Regions from separate parts of the Homo sapiens genome. Here region 2 is linked to region 1. The links come from fine-mapping of genetic effects on gene expression. A gene starts in region 1. The other region holds a variant in brackets. All regions are shown on one strand. Distances are between the middles of the regions.

Region 1 (9,868 bases):
TATTGGACAGAGCAGGCCCGGGCAGCACAGCTCCCTGTGGAGCACAGGGGCGAGGAGGCTTCAGGAGGCCACTGGGATCAGGGAAGGCTTCCAGGAGATACAACGTCCGAGCTGGAGAGGAGGCAGTGAGTGATGGCACGTGAGGGTGCTGGGCCTGAACCCCGAGGGCCCGGACATGATCTAGCTGGGCTGGATGCTGGGTAAGGCCCCCCCACTTCCAGGCGGTGCACAGACAGAAGCAGCAAACTGAGAACCCAGGAGACCAGGGCAGAGGCAGGGGCAGTGTCCAAGGCAAGATGGGGACCTGGCTGGAGAAGCGGCTGGGCTGACGTACAGCAGAGGGCAGGGGAGAGGAAGGGCAGTGCCCACACTGCCGACCTGGTGTTCTCTGCTGCGGAGGGGATCTTTCCTTAGAGGAAAGGAGGCCGAGTTCAACCTGCAACAAGTTGAGTTTGAGGAGCTGCAGGAGGATGGGGGTCGGGCCAGGTGTCACGTGGACATACCAGTCCTCTGGAGCAGCTGTCAGCAGACCGAGGCCCATGGGCCAGATCCAGCCCCTGGCCTGCTTTTGTATTGCCCAAAAGCTAGGAATTTTCTTTAAATTCTTAAGTGGTTAAAAAATTAAAATCCATACCCATTAGCTATCATCAAAAAACTATTATCACCTCAGCCAGGCTGGGCAACATAGTCAGACTCTATCTCTACAAAAAATAAAAATTTGGCCGGGCATGGTGGCACGTATCTGTAGTCTCAGCTACTCGGGAGGCTGAAACTAGAGAATGGCTGGAACTCGGGAGGCAGAAGTCGCAGTGAGCCAAGATTGCGCCACTGCACTCCAGCCTGGGAGACAGAGCGAGACTCCGTCTCAAAAACAAACAAAAACAAAACGAAACGAAACAAACCCAGAAAGCACCAAGTGTGGGCGGGGATGTGGAGACATCAGAACCTCGTGCGCAGCAGGAATGTACTGTGGGCAGCCACTGCGGAAAACAACATGGTGGTCCCTCAAAAGGTTAAACAGAGGTTTGCCGTATGACCTGGCAACTCCGCTTCTCCGTCTATCCCCAAAAGAACTGAAAGCAGGATCTCAAAGAGATATTTGTACCCCCATGTCCACAGTAGCGTCACTGACGGTAGCCCAAGGGTGGAAACCACCCCAGCATCCACTGACGGAGGAACGGATCAACACCGTGGTCTACCCATACAGTGGAATATTATTCACCCATAAAAAGAGAGGAAATCCTTATGCAGGCTACGACATGGATGAAGCTCGAGGGCATCAGCATCAGTGTAAGAAGCCGGTCCACAAAAAGACAGATGCTGTAGGATTCCACTTACAGGAGGTCTCCAGAGCAGTCAAATCTACAGACACAGAGTGGATGGTGGGTGCCAGGGGCTGGGGGAAGGGTCATGGGAAGCTGCTGTTTAATGGGGACAGACTTTCGGTTTGGGAAAATGAGAAACTTTTGGAGATGGATGGTGGTGATGATTGCACAGCCACATGAATATACTGAATTCCACGGAACCGTGCACTTACAAATGGTTAAGAAGGTCCATTTTATGTCATGTGTATTGAACCACAGTCTGAAAATTCGGAGTATTTTGTAACAGTGAGTGTGACCTGGACTTCATGTTTCAGTGACCAGGAAGCAAGTTTTGTTATTTCTTCCCTGCCCAAGCCTGCATTTGCGCCCCAAGGCAGACGACTCGTGGCAGAGACATGTGACCGTCAAGGCCGAAAATACTTACCACGTGTTCCTTTGCAGAAAAAGTTTGCCTTACCCCTGTTCAAGAGCTCAGGAATGAAGTCGGAGATAGGTAGAGCCTGGGAGAGGTGCCAGGGTGCCCAGGCAAAGGCCCCATGAGGCCGCATGCTTATGTTCGAAGGTCTTCTAACTGCTTTATCAAGATACAGTTCACATTCCACAAAGTGTACATTTCAATGGTTTTTTTGTGTGTTGTACAGAGCTGTGAAGCCAACAGGACAGGCCATGTTAGAACGTTCTTATCCTCTGGGAAAGAAACCACGTACCCTTTCACAGTCACCCCCATCCCTCTGTTGTCACTCCCCAGCCCCTGGCAACCGTGAATCTCCTTTCTGTCTCTGTGAATTTATCGACTCCGCACATTTCATAGACTGAGAGTCTCACGCTACGTGGTCCTCGGTGTCTGGCTTCGTTCACGCGGCCTCGTGTTCTCGAGGTTCACCAGCTTCGTCTCTTTTTAGGGCTGAGTAATCTTCCATTATTCTGGACCATGTTTTGTTTATCCACTCATCTGTTGATGGACATGTGGCTATTTTGAATCCTGCTGCTGGAAACATTCATGTGGGCACCGTGCTTACCAAGGCTGTATTCTCAGAACGGACTGAGAGGCCAAGAGTTCCAGAGAAGACGGCTCAGATAGTGTGGAGACTCACCAGTCCAGGAGACAGCATGCTTCCGAATTAAGGGGGGTGCTGCAGTGTCAAATGCTGCACAGCCGGAGGCACCCAGGAATGAAGGAGGGGCCGAGGCAGGGAGAGACACAGGTCCCTAGGGAATTATTTTTAAGCTAGGCTTTGGGGGCAGACGGGGTTTCCACAGCGGTGGGAGGACCAGATTGGGAAGAGGATGAAGATAGAGAGAGGTGTTGGTGGTGGGGGGGGACTGGCCTGGACATGGCACAGCAGACGCAGGTGGGTGCAGGACTGTGCCTGAGGGCAGGGTAGCAAGAAGCCATGCCTGGGCAGTGAGAGGCTTCAGTTTTTAGACAGGAAGTTCTGGGGTGATCTGAAGAGGGCTTGCAGGTCCTGCTCCGGAGATCTTACCAGCTGTGGAGGGGCTTGGACGAAGACCGGGTAGAGAGCAACCCAGCCGCTGTACCGCTCGTCCCTGTTGACCCCCGGGGTGTATGCAGCCACACCCAGAGCAGCAGAGGGCCCACCCATCAAGTCACAGAATCCTGAGAAATAATACATCGTTGTTCAGACCGCTAAAATCCTGGTGGCTCCTTACACAGCAACAGATGACCGAGGGGCTCCCAGCCCGGGAGGTGGAAATCCAGCAGGGATTTCCAAGGCCTAGTTTGCAGGGCTCCAGGATCGTTCCTAGATCCTGGTCTTGCAGCCTTGACAAGGGGAAGGAGGGAGGCAGCAGAAGGAGGGCAGAACAATCCATGCCAGGCTGTGATTTGCCAAGTGACCATCTGGGAAGAATGGGCTCTCAGACCAGGGACAGGGAGCAGAGGCAAGCCCGCATCTGCCCTGGTTGCAGAACCCGGATTCAGACTCAGGGCCCCGATTTCTGCCTGGATCGCTCCACTGGGCGGAGGAGTGACTGTGGACACATCCAGGGTTCTCTCCAAGTCGGCTTCCTCATCTGCCAAATAGAGACCGCAGACCACCAGCTCCCAGGCAGGTGCTACTCTTCCGGCCCCTCCCAAGGCAGGAGGGCCAGGCGTACTCGAGACACAGGTGTGCTGGGGGCCCAGGTGGGCCAGCCAGCAGCATCCTGCAGGGTAATGGGAGCAGGTGGGCACCCCGAGGCTGGCAGTAAACACTGGCTATCTGCCCCCAGGCTCCCAGGAGGGGTCTTGGGCCTCACCTCCTCCGGCCGGAACAGGAAAGCAGCTCCAGGCAGCTGGGTCCACAAAAATCTCCGTTCCCTGAGGTCTCAGAGGCAGTGGCCCAGGAGCATCTGGTCACCTTCGGGAAAAACCGGCTTGGCAAAGGCTCCCCCGAGGGCACGCGTTTCCCGGACAGTGAGGCAGGACCTAAACTCTTCCGTTAACACTACATTTTTCGCATTTCTGCAGTGTTTGCACTCTCAGGCCCCACCATTTCCCCGCATCTCTTAGGGAGAAGTTCTCGACGTCCCACCTCCCCTGGAAGGGTGCTGCTCCCAGAGACCTTCAGGCCAATGGCCCAATCTCAGTGCCCTCAGGGGAGAGGGGGGTGCAGAAAAACAGCCTGGGTCACAAAAGAGGTGCGAGGGCTGTGAGATCCCGGAGGCACCGACGGGAAGCGAGACGGAGAACAGGAGGGCAGGACGGGCTGGAGGTGGGGGATACTGCAGATGGAGGGAGCCACGGTGGGGGAGGGCGTGGACCTGACCGTCCTGGCACAAGGCGGTCGGGTGCAGACCTCCAGGCCCTCCGGGTTAAGGTGCCGCCCAGAGCCCTCAGGCCGGGGGCGCACGGAAACCACAGGCAGGGTGCGCGTGGAGGGACGGGGAAAGCGGGGCGGGTTGGGGAAGGCGCCCCGGGAACCTGAACCTCCCACCCCGCCTCAGTCTCGACCACTCCTTAAGCCCCACCCCGCCCCAGGTAAGGCGCAGTCCACCCCCATTCCCAGTAGATTAACGCACAGGTGGGGGCGCGCTCGGGACATAGCTGCGCTAGGGGACAGCGCGCCCAGCCCAGTCGCGGGGGCGAGGAGCAGGGCGGGGCCCAGCAGGAACCCAGCTTTGTTAGCGATGCTCCCCGTGAGCCACGCGCCACGCGTACGCGCTTCCTCAATGGGGCCGGGCGTGGAGCCGCGCCCTGCGCGATTGGCCAAACGGGTGGCCCACGATTGGCTGAGACCCTGGCCCCCGCCTCCTCGGCCCCAGGAGGGTGGGGCGTGGGTGTGGGCTGCGCGGCGCGTGCTGCCCCCGGGGATCTTGCGCGCCTCCCGAACAGCCGTGTTGTCGCCAGGGCCGCGCCTTCCCTCCCACAGCGCGCGCTGCGCGTGCGAAGGTCTGGCGGCTCTTGGGACTGGCGGGGCTGCGCGCGGGGTTAGGGTGGGGGTACGGGAAGGCTCAACCCAGGACCTGCGTACCTTGCTTTGGGGGCGCACTAAGCACCTGCCGGGAGCAGGGGGCGCACCGGGAACTCGCAGATTTCGCCAGTTGGGCGCACTGGGGATCTGTGGACTGCGTCCGGGGGATGGGCTAGGGGGACATGCGCACGCTTTGGGCCTTACAGAATGTGATCGCGCGAGGGGGAGGGCGAAGCGTGGCGGGAGGGCGAGGCGAAGGAAGGAGGGCGTGAGAAAGGCGACGGCGGCGGCGCGGAGGAGGGTTATCTATACATTTAAAAACCAGCCGCCTGCGCCGCGCCTGCGGAGACCTGGGAGAGTCCGGCCGCACGCGCGGGACACGAGCGTCCCACGCTCCCTGGCGCGTACGGCCTGCCACCACTAGGCCTCCTATCCCCGGGCTCCAGACGACCTAGGACGCGTGCCCTGGGGAGTTGCCTGGCGGCGCCGTGCCAGAAGCCCCCTTGGGGCGCCACAGTTTTCCCCGTCGCCTCCGGTTCCTCTGCCTGCACCTTCCTGCGGCGCGCCGGGACCTGGAGCGGGCGGGTGGATGCAGGCGCGATGGACGGCGGCACACTGCCCAGGTCCGCGCCCCCTGCGCCCCCCGTCCCTGTCGGCTGCGCTGCCCGGCGGAGACCCGCGTCCCCGGAACTGTTGCGCTGCAGCCGGCGGCGGCGACCGGCCACCGCAGAGACCGGAGGCGGCGCAGCGGCCGTAGCGCGGCGCAATGAGCGCGAGCGCAACCGCGTGAAGCTGGTGAACTTGGGCTTCCAGGCGCTGCGGCAGCACGTGCCGCACGGCGGCGCCAGCAAGAAGCTGAGCAAGGTGGAGACGCTGCGCTCAGCCGTGGAGTACATCCGCGCGCTGCAGCGCCTGCTGGCCGAGCACGACGCCGTGCGCAACGCGCTGGCGGGAGGGCTGAGGCCGCAGGCCGTGCGGCCGTCTGCGCCCCGCGGGCCGCCAGGGACCACCCCGGTCGCCGCCTCGCCCTCCCGCGCTTCTTCGTCCCCGGGCCGCGGGGGCAGCTCGGAGCCCGGCTCCCCGCGTTCCGCCTACTCGTCGGACGACAGCGGCTGCGAAGGCGCGCTGAGTCCTGCGGAGCGCGAGCTACTCGACTTCTCCAGCTGGTTAGGGGGCTACTGAGCGCCCTCGACCTATGAGGTAACAGCCGGGAGGCAGGGAGGAGGGAGGGCCGGGGGCCGGGGTGGAGGGACGGGGTGGGCAGGCCCGGCGGGTCGCGCCCCCAGGAGCCCGCGGAGCCGAGCGCCAGGCCCGAGCGATGGCTTCGATTTCGCTCACTCTTCATTTCCCCCAAAGTTTTTCAAGCCCGTGCAAGACCGGCGTTTGTTTGTCCGGGATTGCAAAACTTCCCCTCGCGGCTCAGCCGCCGACGAGGGAGGGGTAGACGAGGGGAGGGGAGCGGCCGTCGGGCCGTTGAGGTCTCTAGTGCTGGCGGATCCTGGGGCAGATTGGGGTGCTGGAGGCGGGGTGACTTTGCATTGCAAATCGCGCTCCCGGGCCGGGGCGGCAGAAATGAGTCGGCGGGCGCGGAGCCCTGACTCACCGCGGCTCCGAGCGCCCGCCCCGCCCCCGCCGTGTCTCAGACCGAGTCGCGGCACCCACGGACTCAAGACTCCAAAACCAACCGAGCAAACGAAACTGCCGACTTCGCTTGGGGGAGGTGCGGGCAGGGCCGGCCCGGGCGGGGTCTGCCCCGGGCCCGCGCCCGCGTTGACGCGCGTTTGGTTCCCCACCTTCCCCCCGCAGCCTCAGCCCCGGAAGCCGAGCGAGCGGCCGGCGCGCTCATCGCCGGGGAGCCCGCCAGGTGGACCGGCCCGCGCTCCGCCCCCAGCGAGCCGGGGACCCACCCACCACCCCCCGCACCGCCGACGCCGCCTCGTTCGTCCGGCCCAGCCTGACCAATGCCGCGGTGGAAACGGGCTTGGAGCTGGCCCCATAAGGGCTGGCGGCTTCCTCCGACGCCGCCCCTCCCCACAGCTTCTCGACTGCAGTGGGGCGGGGGGCACCAACACTTGGAGATTTTTCCGGAGGGGAGAGGATTTTCTAAGGGCACAGAGAATCCATTTTCTACACATTAACTTGAGCTGCTGGAGGGACACTGCTGGCAAACGGAGACCTATTTTTGTACAAAGAACCCTTGACCTGGGGCGTAATAAAGATGACCTGGACCCCTGCCCCCACTATCTGGAGTTTTCCATGCTGGCCAAGATCTGGACACGAGCAGTCCCTGAGGGGCGGGGTCCCTGGCGTGAGGCCCCCGTGACAGCCCACCCTGGGGTGGGTTTGTGGGCACTGCTGCTCTGCTAGGGAGAAGCCTGTGTGGGGCACACCTCTTCAAGGGAGCGTGAACTTTATAAATAAATCAGTTCTGTTTACCAGTGGCTCCTATCACCTACACTTCCCAGGTGACGGCCAGACTTCCGTGGTCACTACTCCTCAAACCCTGCTGCCTCCTCCGTAGGGTGGGTCTGGGTGAGATCTGGAGTGCAGCCAGGCCGTTGATAGCGGAGCCATTGGGACACCTTGTGAGGCTGGGGGCATCCTCCAGGAGGTGGTGGGCTGGTGGGTTGTCCAGACAGGGCTACTCGCTGGCTTGGAAGCTGCAGGCTGGAGGCTGCTGACCCATCCCGAGGGCTGGGGTAAGTGCTGGGTGTGGGGCTAGGCTGAGGTGGTCTGACCAGAGAGCACCGGCTGTGGGGCTGAGGGCATGGGCTCCTGCGCAGGCCACCACGCTCAGATCTCCACTAACGTGGCAGCTGGGCAGCCCAGGGCAAGTGGGTTAACTTGCAAATGGGTTTGACCAGACCCACCTCAACGGCCTCTGGGAGGAGTTAGTGAGAGGTGCCTGGAGGCTGCCCTCTCGCTAGCTTTGGGTTTTGCCCGCACTGGGGAGGCCCTGCAGGTCTCCGCTCACCTGAATTCTAAGAGCGGCTCTTGAAAGGAACAAGGAAGGCTTGGAAGCTTTGCGCCAGGCTCCCCGCAGCCGGAGAGCTGGCACTGGGATATTACACGGCTATACCTTTGACTCAGGGCCTAGGAGGCTTTGATGTCTCACTGTACCGAAAGCTGCCTTTTAGTGTCCTGGTGGGGGAGGGGTTGTGGGGCTCCCCCGGTTTCTTTAGGGCGCAGAGGCACCCCTTCCTTCAGAAAGGAGTGGTTGGGACAGAGCCGTGGGAGCCCTGCGAGGTGGGAGCAGCTGGTGTTGTCCCAGAGTGGGTGGCTCCTGAATAACCACGGCAACAGGACACCCAGGCTACCGGGATGCCTGGGTCTCAAACGTCAGGCTGGCCAGGTCCCTTCTTATCAGAGGAGCTCAGGGCTCCTCTCTCGCCAGCTGCAGCCTCAGTCCAGGTGGGGGCTCCTCAGCAGCCAAGGTCAAAGCCGAGTCTGTAGCGGGGGTCAAAGGGGTCAGCTGGTCTGATGAGGACCAGGCTCAACTGGGGTCAGTGGACCAGCTGTGGCTTGGGGCTGCAGGGCTCAGGGAACTGGCCTTGGCCAAGGGACAGGAGGGGGCACATTGCCGTGGTCACCCAGGGAGGGACATCCCACAGGCTTCTCCCAGAATCCACACCCGGGTCGGTGGCCTCCCTGAGCCCTCCCCAGGACTCCACACCTTGACCTCAAGGAAAGGCCCACAGCTGCCAGGACCACAGGGGGCTGTTGGGTGGGTGAAGAGGGTAGGGGGGAAACGATGGAAGGCCAGGGCAGAGGAAACGACTGCCACCCACTGGCGTGAAGCGGACAAAACTCTGCAGAGGGTAAGTAGTGCTGCCATTTTTGTTTTCCCATTTTCCCATTTTTCATTTTATTATGGAAAATTTCAAACATACACAAAAGCACCGAGGCCTTTGTTGAGCAGTCTCTGTGCCAGGACTTAGGGTGCATCCGTGTGCCACACAAGCCCGTGCTCGTGGAGCCTGGGTCCTAGCAGTGGACACAGGATCCAACCGTTGTACAGTCTGGCCGGTGGAGGACGCACTGGGCTCCAGGGCAGCCCTGGGAAGCCTCCAGCACCAGTTTCAAGGCCCTTCCTGCCCCATCCATCCCCCACGCCATCCCTGCGTTGCTTTGAAGCAAATCCCAGACTTTGAATCCTTTCACCCGTCATGTTTCACGTGTGCCTCTAAAGGAAACCGCAAAAACATCACCCGCTCAAATGAACCACCGTTCTTTCATATCATCGGGGACCCAGCCAATGGCGCAGTCCTCAGGGGGTCTCGTGGTTTTGTGCAGTTGGCCTTATAGAATCGGGATCCGCCGCAGGTCCACACATCAAGTTTGCTTAATAGGTCTCTTAAGCGCCTTGTAAGCAATTTCCCTCCAGTGTCTTCATTGAAGAAGCGGAGATGTCTGTTCCGTTGAGCCCCCGTGTGCGTGGTGGTGTTGATGGCACCGTGCTGGGTGTTGTTATTGGGAGCCTGTCCCTGTATTTCCTGTAGGACAGGGTATGGGGTGCCAGAAGCGGACCTTTGATCAAGTTTGGGGTGGCCTGCAAATGGGGTTGACACCAGGCCCACCTAATGAGTGTGACAGAGATGCCAAGAAAGATCCGTTCCAGGGAGACAAGGGACTCCCTTTCCGAGTTTGCCTCGAGAACTACCCAGCAAGCTTGTGGAAACTTCCATAGACCTCACAGCGATCTAGGCCCAGGCTATCCCCTCGCCTTCACTGGGGCAGAATCGCGTCGTGGTCTAGTGGCTTCCCACCCGTTGCCACCTCCTTCCTGTGTATTTCCTTTCACACGGGCGTTTCCCCGAATGCAGTCCTTATCCAGTTCATCCCACTTGGCACCTGCTGCTCAGAGGATGTAGTGCTGCTGGACTGCATCTCCCAGGAGACAGGACTTGTAGCGACGATGTAACTTGCTGTCCCAGCGGGGACATTTTTGAGACTGGAAAGGGCTGTGGTTGATAACCAGGACCACAGGCGAGTCTCCTGGGCACAGTGGGCTGCTGATTGCCGTGTTATGAAGACCCCTCCCCACACTGTCATTCACCCAGTGCCCAGTAAAGATGAAGTGCCTGAAGTCACAGGCAAGCTGGTCCAACCCACCTTCTCTTGCTGTCGTTT
Region 2 (9,868 bases), 53 kb after region 1:
ATATTTTAGGGGGAACCTTCTGGAGATCTCCAGGGTTCACTCTTTGTACCACTCTCTTCTCTGCCCTGCAAACTCTAGCCACCTTGGTCTCCCCAAACCCCCAATTCTGTTACCTCAACTTGGATTCATTGGGCTCTGCCTCAATTTTCCTCCCTGTATTGCAGTCCAAAAACTCTCTCAGGGCAGCAAGACAAGGCAATTGTAGGGCTCACTTTGTTTTTCTTCTCTTGGGGATCACTGTCCTTCTTTGCCCAATATCCTTTCTTGAAAACCAGTGTTTCTTTTTTTTTTTCTTCTTCAATCTTTTTGCTTATTATTTCAGCTGAGAGGGGAAACCCAGTTCCTGTTACTTCGTCTTTGCCAGAAGTGGGTGAAAAGCCTTGGAGAGTGTCATCAGTTTTGACTTATTTTCTGGCTTTGGAGTAAAGGCAGGTTCAGGGACTTCTACTTGTTCTTTCCTGCCATAATAGGTCTTACCACAAAGGTCAAGGAGCTGATGAAGGAGTCTGCCTGCTTATGGGTCCATGTTGATTATTTGTGTAGGAACTGGGGGCGTAATCTTCAAATGGGTTCATGAACATAGCCCACCCCATGAGATAGACCTGGGCCAGATTTCCACTTATTATCTAACTCCCCTATGCTGCTTCTTTAATGGGGGGCCCATGATGGCACTTGGGTCCCCTAGTACCAGTGTTATGAGTGTTATGCAGACTCCATATGCAACAGCCCTGCAAAGATAGTTGTGTCCCTCAGTTATCAGCTGTGATGATCTGATTCAGTGGCTGTAGGTCCCTTGGGGAAAGGACTGAGGACATACCACAGGTTGCATTTGGTATGCTGTTTCAGGGTCCTGCCTCATGGGGACCCAGCTTCTCTTTCCATTGGTGAGTCTGGGTCTGAGAACTGGCTGAGGTCTGGAAATGGTCAAGGGGTCAGGATTGCATTTGAGAGAATGATCTCAGCCTCAGGCATCCAGTCTTGATCCCTTGTTTCTATATTAAAGGGTCACCTGGTTGGTTGCCCACCTGTCCCCTCTAGGAGCATCATGCTCTATTATCCTTCTCAAAGACCCCTGTGGGTAAGGCCAACTGGTGCCATTTCCTCTTTGCTGCCCGAATTCACTTTCTGTGGCTGCCATAACTAAGTACCATAGACTGGGGGACTTAATAACCAGAAGTTTATCCTCCTCAGTCCTGAAGGCTGGAATCCAAGATCAAGGTGTCACAGGGCTGGTTCCTCCTGAGGCTTCTCCCCTTGGCTGGCAGATGGCTGCCTTCTAGCTGTGTCCTCACAGGGTCCTCCCCCTGTGTGTGTCTGGGTTCTAATCTCCTCTTCTCACAAGTATATCAGTCAGGTTGGATTAAAGCTGCTAGAATTTGGATGTTTGTCCACTCCAAACCTCATGTGGAAATTTGATCCAATGTTGAAAGTGGAGGCCTAATGGGAGGTGTTTGGGTCATGGGAGTAGATCCCTCATGAACAGGTTAATGCCCTCCCTGGTAGAGCGGGGCAAATGAGGTCTCACTTTATTAGTTCCCTCAAGAGCAGGTTGTTAAAAAGAGGCTAGCACCTCCCTCCCATCTCTCTGGCTTGCTCTCTTGCCATACGGTCTCTGCACACACTGGCTCCCCCTCACCTCCACCATGAGTGGAAGCAGCCTGAGGCCCTCACCAGCAGCAGATGCAGGCCCCGTGCTTCCTGTACAGCCTGCAGAACCATGAACCAAATAAACCTCTTTTCTTTATAAATTACCCAGTCTCAGGTGTGCTTTTATAGTAACACAAGTGGACTGAGAAAATTGGTACTGAGAGTGGGGTGTTGCTATAAAGATACCTGAAAATGTGGAAGTGGCTTTGGAACTGAGTAATGGGCAGAGGTTGAATGAGTTTGGAGGGCTCAGAAGAAGACAAGAAGATGAGGGAAAGTTTTAAACTTCTTGGAGACTAGTTAAGTGGTTGTGACTAAAATGCTGATAGACATGCAGGCAATAGAGGCCATGCTGATGAGGTCTCTGATAGAAATGAGGAACTTACTGGGGACTGGAGCGAAGATCACCCTTGTTAACCCCTAGCAAAGGTTGCAACTGCATTGTGTCCGTGCTTTAAGGCTTTGTAGAAGGCTAACCTTAAGAGTGATGACCCAGAATGTTTAGTGGAAGAAATTTCTAAGCAGCAGAGTGTTCCAGAAGTACCATGGCTACTTTTAACAACTTACAATCACTACAACAGCAAAGGAATGATCTAAAGGTAGAATTTCTAATAAAAAGGGAAGTAGAGCATACAAATTTAGACAATTTTCAGCCTGGCCTGTGGTAGAGAAGCAAAGAATGTTTTCAGGAGAGGAATTCAAGGTCCTTTGTGACACCGGTTGCTAGAGGGGTTGGCATGACTGAAAGAGGGTATAATGCTAACAGTCAAAACAATGGGGAAAGGGCCCTGAAGGTATTTTGAAGGACTTTGAGGCCACCCTGCCCATCACAGGCCCAGAGGCCTAGCAGAACAGAGTGGCTTGGAGGGTCAGGTCCAGGGTGCCACTGCTGTGGACCACCTTGGGATGCTGCTTCCCACATCCCAGCCACCCCAGATCCAGCCATGGTCCCAATGGCCTCAGATACCGCTTGGACAGCTGCCCTGCAGAGCACGAGGCATGGGACTTGCTGGCTTCCATGTATTGTTAAGTCTGCAGGAATCCAGAATGCAAAAGTGCTGGAGGTTTGGCCACTTCCATTTAGATTTCAAAGGGTGTATTGGAAAGCCTGGGTGCCCAGGCAGAACCCTGCTGCAGGGATAGAGCCCTTCGGAGATATTCTTCTACTGGAGCTGTGGGAATGGGGCTGCCAGGGGGACCCCAGAATTACAGAGACACCAGCAGTGTGCAATCGCAGCCTGGAAAAGCCCCAGGCATTGGACTCCAACCTGTGAGAGTAGCCACGTGGGCTGGGCTCAGCAAAGCCATGGGGGCAGGGCTGTCCAGAGTCCTGGGAGCCCACCCTTCCTTCCAGCGTGGGATGTGGGACATGGAGTCAAAAGAGATTTGGGAGCTTTAAGATTTAATGTCTGTTCTGCTGGGTTTCAAGCTTGTGTGGGACCTGTCCTGCCTTTCTTTTGGTCAATTTCTTCCTTTTGGAATGGGAATGTTTACCCAATGTCTGTCCCACCATTGTACCTTGGAAGTAAATGACTTGATTTTGATTTTACAGGCTCATACCTGAAAGAAACTTGCCTTGAGTCTTAGATGAGACTTTGCACTTTGGACTTTTAAATGGATGCAGGAAGAAGCTAAAACTTTAGGGGACTCCTGAGATGGGATGATTGTATTTTGCATGTGAGAAGGACATAAATTTGGGGGGACTGGGGAGGAATGCTATAGTTTGGATGTTTGTCCCCCAACCTCATGTTGAAATTTGATGCCCAGTGTTGGAGGTGGGGGCCTGATGTGAGCCGTTGGGGTCATGAGGATGGATTCCTCATGAGTGGATTAATGCCCTCCCTGGAGGAGGGTGAGAACTAAGTTCTTACTTTGAGTTCCCATGAGCACTGATTGTTAAGAAGAGCCCAGCACCTTCCCTCTCTCTTGGTTCCTCTCTCACCATGTGGTCTCTGCACACCGGCTCTCACCCTCCCGCCATGAGTGGATGCAGGCTGAGGCCCCCCCCAGCAGCAGATGCAGGTGCCATGCTTCCTGTACAGCCTGCAGAACCATGAGCCAAATAAATCTCATTTCTTTATCAATTACCCAGTCTCAGGTATTCCTTTATAGCAACACAAACAGAGTAAGACAAAAGCCCACACCCATGACCTCGTTAGGACTCTCACACTGGATCTTGGATTGTGAATTTATAGATCTGAACTTGGGGTTTTCTTCCTTCAGGACCTTCATGGCTCTCAGCAAAAGCTGCCCGTTCCACAGCTCTTTGCTTAAGGTTTCCCCATAGTTCTCAAGTGCTGGGGACATGGCACCAGGTGGTCTGTGATCCCACAGTGTTCTGCTCTAGCCTGCCAGGGGCTCTATCCACTCCTCCCCTGCTCACCCCCATGAGGGGCTCCTCCTTGCCCTGGTCAGTGAGAGAGCTGATCACAGAGCCCACACCTGGGCTCAGCTTCCCAGTGCCATGCCTGGCACCAACTGTCTCAGGCCTGTTCCCCTGAAGAAGAATCTGCAGTGGGGTTTCTCATGCATGGGATTTGTTGGGGGAGGGGTGCCCTCCCAGGAAGAGAAGAGGCTGAGAACACAGGCAAGCAAGAGGGGGTCTCGGCAGCAGACAGCCTCAGGGAGCTCTGGGGCATAAATTGTACTATAGTAGGCTGGGCTTTGAGGTAAGGGGACTGGGTTTCATATTCCTGGGTGGTCACTCCTAGCGTGGGCTGCCCCTGGGCTGGGGCATAGCCTCCTGTTTGCCTGAGAACGAGTCACTGAGGAGGGGCAGCTGTGAGTACTTGCAGCCAACCTCTGTGGCTGGGAATGGTTGCAGAGCCAGTGTAGGAGTCAGGTGGAGCCGAGGGTGTAAGGGCCAGGCGGAGCAGAGGCTGGTATAGGGACCCAGTGGGCACAGGGCATGAGGACCCAGTGAGGCGCTGGCAGCATGCTGCAGGCTGGACAGCTCCAGGCACCTTTCTCATTACCACGTGTCCTCCTCGCACCGGGCATTGTGAAGCTTCCAAGGCTGGGTCCACAGGGCGTTGGAACAGGGGGAGCCCACAGAGAGCCTGCCAGGCATGGGGGCTGTCCTGGGAAGCTGCTCTGGCCCCAAGAGGTGCCTTGGGAAGGCTTGGCCTGGCCACAGTCCTGCAGCACCCCCTGGGCATGGGACGGGGGTGCCCAGCTCAGCCAGGCTCAGAGGTCCTGGCCCCCTACAGCAGGCAGCGGGCAGCATCCACACCTGTAGGTCTCCTTGTCCCAGCAGGTGGGACTCCAGGCACACTCGCTGCAGCAGCGGTGTCTGTCTGAGCCTGCCGGCCTGGGTGGGCACCGCTGAGGACGTTTTTTGGGCGTTGGTGCCAGGGTGTCGGTGCTGGGC[G/A]TTGGTAGTGGTGTCCCTGTGGGCAGGCAGCTGTGCTGGGAGGGCGGGTGTTGCTGGGTGCCCATGGGTGTGGCTGTGGCTGTGGGTACGTGTGGCTGTGAGAGGATGGGCACGTCTCTGCGTGCCTGTGTGTGCCCCTGTTTTGTGTGTCTGTGTGTGCCCATACGTCTCTGTGCACCTGCATGTGTCTGAGCATACCTGTGTGTGTCCGTGTGTGGCTGTGCGTCCCTGTTGTTTGTGCATGATGGTGTGTATTTGTGTTTATCTGTGTGTGGCTCTGTGTGTCTGTGTTTTGTCTGTTCATGTCTGTGTGGCTATGTGTACTGTGTGTGGCTGTGTGTATTTGTGTTTATCTGGGTATGGCTATGTGTGCCCATGTGTGGCTGTGTGTGTCTGTGTGTACCTTTGTGTGCCCATGTGTGGCTGTGTGTGCTGTGCATGGCTGTGTATATTTGTGTTTATCTGTGTGTGGCTGTGCAAGTCTCTGTGTGTCTGTGTGTCTGTGTGTGTCTGTGTGGCTGTGTGTCTGTGCGTGTCCGTGTGTGTCTTTGTGGCTGTGTGTCTGTGTGTGTCTTTGTGGCTGTGTGGCTGTGTGTGCTGTGCATAGCTGTGTGTGTTTGTGTTTATCTGTGTGTGGCTGTGCATGTCTGTGCGTGTCTGTGTGTGTGCCTTGCGTGTTTGTGTGTGTACCTGTGTGTGCCTGGTGCCCTCCAGGAGAAAGGGGGCAGGGAGCCCATTGCAAGGATGGGCGGTGTACGACCTGTCTCCCTGAGGATTTCTGAGGGTGTGAGGGTGGGGTAGCCACAAGTGTGTCTATGCCGGGCTCCCTGCTGTTTAGAGGGTGGGGTGATAGGCAGCTGAGAAAGGAGAAGGGAAGAAGCAGCTCTGAGCTCCCTCCTGACCTCAGGAGACCCTGCACCCATTGCTGACCGCCCACGGCACCCTGCTCTCCCAGGGGCCTGGGAGCAGCCCTGGGGCCTGGCTGTGAGCGGGGCCTGAGAGGTGGGGCGCGGCCCTCGGGGCTGCCCATCTGGCCCAGGTTACACCTGGCTGGTGCCTACTTTCCTCAGGTGAGGACCTGCGCATCCCAGGCTCAGGGTCCTCTCTGTGAAGGGGGCACGATGGTGAGACCACCCTGAGCATCCGGTGCGCCCAGTGCATCCCGCAGGGAGGCCCCATCCTCAGCTCCTCTGGGGGTCTGTCCGGAGTGCCTCTTGGTCCAGCTGCATCCATCCAGTCTGCTGGCACTGACTGAGCACCTACTGGACACACTGGGATATAGTGGGGGGATCTGGGCCGGGCAGGGACCCCCACAGGGCTTGTGGGTCAGGGCAGGAGAAGGCCCGGGGCAGTGGGGGCAAGCAGAAGCCAGGCTCCGCGGCCTCTGACACTGAGGGCCCCAGGTGGGCCTCCTGGGTGGCTGCTCTCCTGCACCCTCTGCAGACAGCTACCTCACCCTCACGTCTCCCCAAGCCCTGGTCACACACTTGGCCTGTCCACTTGAGGGCCTCGCGGGCTTCTGAAAACTCACTTGTCTGGGACTTGCTCCCGGTCCCCCCTCACCTACCCCACAGTGGCCGTCCTGGTCCCCCTTCCCCTATCCCCCAGCGCCCGTCCCGGTCCCCCCTCACCTACCCCCCCAGCACCCGTCCCAGTCCCCTTCACCTACTCCCCAGCGGCCTTCCGGGTCCCCTCTCACCTACCCCCGCAGCGCCTGTCCCAGTCCTCCCTCATGTACCCTCCAGCACCCGTCCCGGTCCCCCGTCACCTACCCCTCAGCGCCCGTCCCGGTCCTCCCTCACGTACCCCCCAGTGGCTGTCTCAGTCACCCTCACCTACCCCCCAGCACCCGTGCTCCCTCTGGCTACTCCTGGCTTCCATTCCATGGAATTTAGCACCTCGAGCTTCTGTGTGCTCAGTGACACCTCTGATCTCTGCTTCCTTTCCCCCAGGGTGGATGCTTTGCGGGTTCTAGGACTGGGTCTGTTTTGCTCCTGGCTGTGACCCAGTGCCCAGAGTGGAGCCTGGCTTGTGTATGAAGGGGACAAATGTGTACCCCTGAACGAGGACTGGGGTGTGTGGCCTGGCTGGGGAGGCTGCGGAGCCTTCCTCACAGGAGAGGGTCCAGTAGAGTTAATTTGGGCAAAATGCAGGTGTGCAAAGGCCCTGCGGCTAGTCAGGCATGGACCTGCAGAGGCTGGGGTGGGTGGGCACCACCCAAAGCCTGGGGAGGCAGGTGGGCCGGCCTAGTCCTAGCACAAAGGCTCTGTGTGGGTTCTGCCTGTGACTTTACCAAAGGCCGACGGATAGCCCTGGGGGCCTCTAAGCACGGAGACGTGCCCACTGATGCCCATGTTTGCAGAGGTCAGGCTGACTCCCCAGAGGAGGATGAGCAGAGGCAGAGTGGCAGAGCAGGAGGGTAAAGGGAGACCACGGAGATGTCACTGCCCTCCCGATGGCGTGTCTGAAGGACAGAATGTGGGGGCAGGAAGGAGCAGCTGCCAGCGGGGCAGGTGGCAGGGCAGGTGGCAGGGCAGTAGTACCCAGCATCAAGGTCCGGCCTGGCGAGGAGGCCCAGGCGGTGAGGAGCCCCGGGGCTCGGGCCTGGGGCAGCTGGACCCGTGCTGCCGTCTGTCGTCTGAGAGTGACAGAGGGCAGCTGGCTTCTGGGTTGGAGCACAGGGGAGAGGGAGGCGGCCTAGCGGGAGACGGACTGTGGCCTGCGTGTAGCCGGCAACTGTGGCAGGAAGATGAGAGGAGGCCGTCTGGAGCAGCTCCGGACCCAGTGGAAGAGGCCGTCCCGCAAGGACCTGGGGAGGAGCAGCAGAGCGGGGAAGAAACAGATGAGGGGCTGGGAAGGCAGGAGGAGGTCTCCAGGGCTGGAGGCCAAAGCACTGGGCCCCTTGGCAGTGCGGGAGCTGACTGACCTGGACTGTGGTTAGAAGAGAGGTGGCATGAGGTGACAGGGAAAGGGAGTGGACAGGCCTTCTCTCTTTCCAGACATTTAATGTGAAGTAAAGAGGTTGGCACGAGCTGTGTGGCAGTCTGTGGACTCAAGGGATGAGTATTTAAGATGGGAGAGAACTGAGCCTGTCTAGAAGCCCGTGGAAGAAATGAGTTACAGGCCACAAAAAGACAGGGAGAAACCGCTAACTCGACATGTGGAAGAGGCCAGGCTGCAAAGGATTGTAGGATCCTGTAGGGTTCTACCCTTAGGACATTCTGGAAACAGCAAAACCATGAAGACAAACGTCAGCGGCTGCCAGGGGTTAGGGAGGCAGGAGGAACAAACAGGTGGAGCATGGAGGATTTCGGGGCCGTGGAACCCCTCTATGGGGTGCTGTAACAGTGGATACAGGGTAGTATTAGTCCAAACCCATAGAACTTATAACACCGAGCTCCAAGCCTCATGTAAACTATGGCCTTTGCATAATAATTAAGTATTGATGTATTTCAAAACAACGTGTAGTGCAGGATAAATATATGCATTGTTATTTGTCAATTACATAAACAGAAATGTTTTTTAAAAAGCATCAGCGTGGATAAGCAAAGTGCGATCTTCTCATACGGTGGGGGATCCGGACCCACGCTGTCACGGGGTGGACCTGAGGCAGGGGCTCAGCGGGAAAAGCCAAACACGGAAGGACGGACGCTGTGTGCTGCCACTCACATGAGGCTCCTACAGTCATCAAATCCGCAGAGACGGGAAGTAGAACAGTGGGTGTCAGGGGCTGGGGGAGGGGTGGGGAGTTTGCTTTGAATGGGGACAGAGTCTCATCTCGGGAAGATGAAAGGGTTCCGGAGATGGATGGCAGTGAGGGCTGCACACCAGTGTGAGTGTCCCTAATGCCCCTGAACTGTGCATTGAAAAACAGTGTACATTTAGGACAGTACATTGATGTGATGTGTTTTTTGCCCCAATAAAAAGTATGCGACTTTAAAAAATGTCCAATGGGTTCCTGGCCACAGCGATGCAAGAGGCCAGTAACGGGGAGACTGCAGGCATGGGGGAGGGCTGGGCAGGGGGTAGAGCATCAGGGAACTTTCTGTACTTTCTGCTCCATTTTCTATAAACCTTAAAGTGTGTTCTTTAAAAAAAAAAAAAAAAAAAAAAAAAAGGCTACCAGTTACAAAACAGAAAAAGCCCAGAGGCCAATGAGGGCACCCGGCATAGCCTGCAGGCCAGTTGGCCGGAGGGGCTGGAGGAGGTTGGGATGGGGCTGGCCCCTGCTGCATGCCCTGCCTGCACCCCTCTCCAGGCTGCAGGTGGGGGTCTCCTGGGGTTTGCCTGTTGCCCCTGGGGCTGTGTGCTCCATGCTAGCAGGAGCCAGGGCAGCCTGCCCACTCCTGCGTTCCCCCAGCAGGGCCAGCTTCTGCTGCCTAGCAGGTCTTCAGGACATTGTGAGAAAGAGTGGATGGACTGGACAAACGTGCTCGGAGGAGTGTGTGTGTGGCCACAGTGGCTCCCAGGGAGGGCCATGCTCAACAGGAGCTGGGATGGTGCCACGGGAGGCTCAGGGCCACAAACCTGGAGATCAAGGCACAGATCAAGGCCGTGGCCAGCCCCAGGCAGAGCTGGGAGTGAGCCAGGCCGCCCGACTGGGGTCTGTGGCCTGGCCTCGGCCCCAGCCCGTCTTGGTTTCCCACACTCAGGGACCCACTGTTTGTGTGTCTGTCTCAGTGGGCTGTCATTTTTAAAAGGAGGTGAAGTTCACATACCCAGAATTAGCTATTTTCAGTGCACAATCCAGCGTATCCAGCACGATCTCAGTGCTGTGCGACCCTCACCTCGGTCTAGCTCTGGAGCACGTGCATCCCCCAGGCGGAAACCCTGTCACTGAGCGGTCACTCC

The links. PIP is the estimated chance that this variant, and not a neighbour inherited with it, causes the effect.
Region 2: its variant is fine-mapped to the expression of ASCL2 in whole blood (TOPMed, PIP above 0.99).

Annotation. Positions count from the first base shown.
Region 1 is chr11:2,265,803-2,275,670 of GRCh38, reverse strand. It overlaps ASCL2 (achaete-scute family bHLH transcription factor 2), which reads left to right and starts at 5,083. Exons shown (of 2, transcript NM_005170.3): 1 at 5,083-5,938; 2 at 6,545-7,173. The coding sequence starts at 5,339. The coding sequence ends at 5,920.
Region 2 is chr11:2,212,517-2,222,384 of GRCh38, reverse strand. No RefSeq gene overlaps it. Among named protein-coding and RNA genes, the nearest start is that of MIR4686, 44 kb to the right of the region's middle. RefSeq lists enhancers at 7,120-7,680, 9,402-9,868. The variant G/A (reference allele first, on the strand shown) is at 5,018.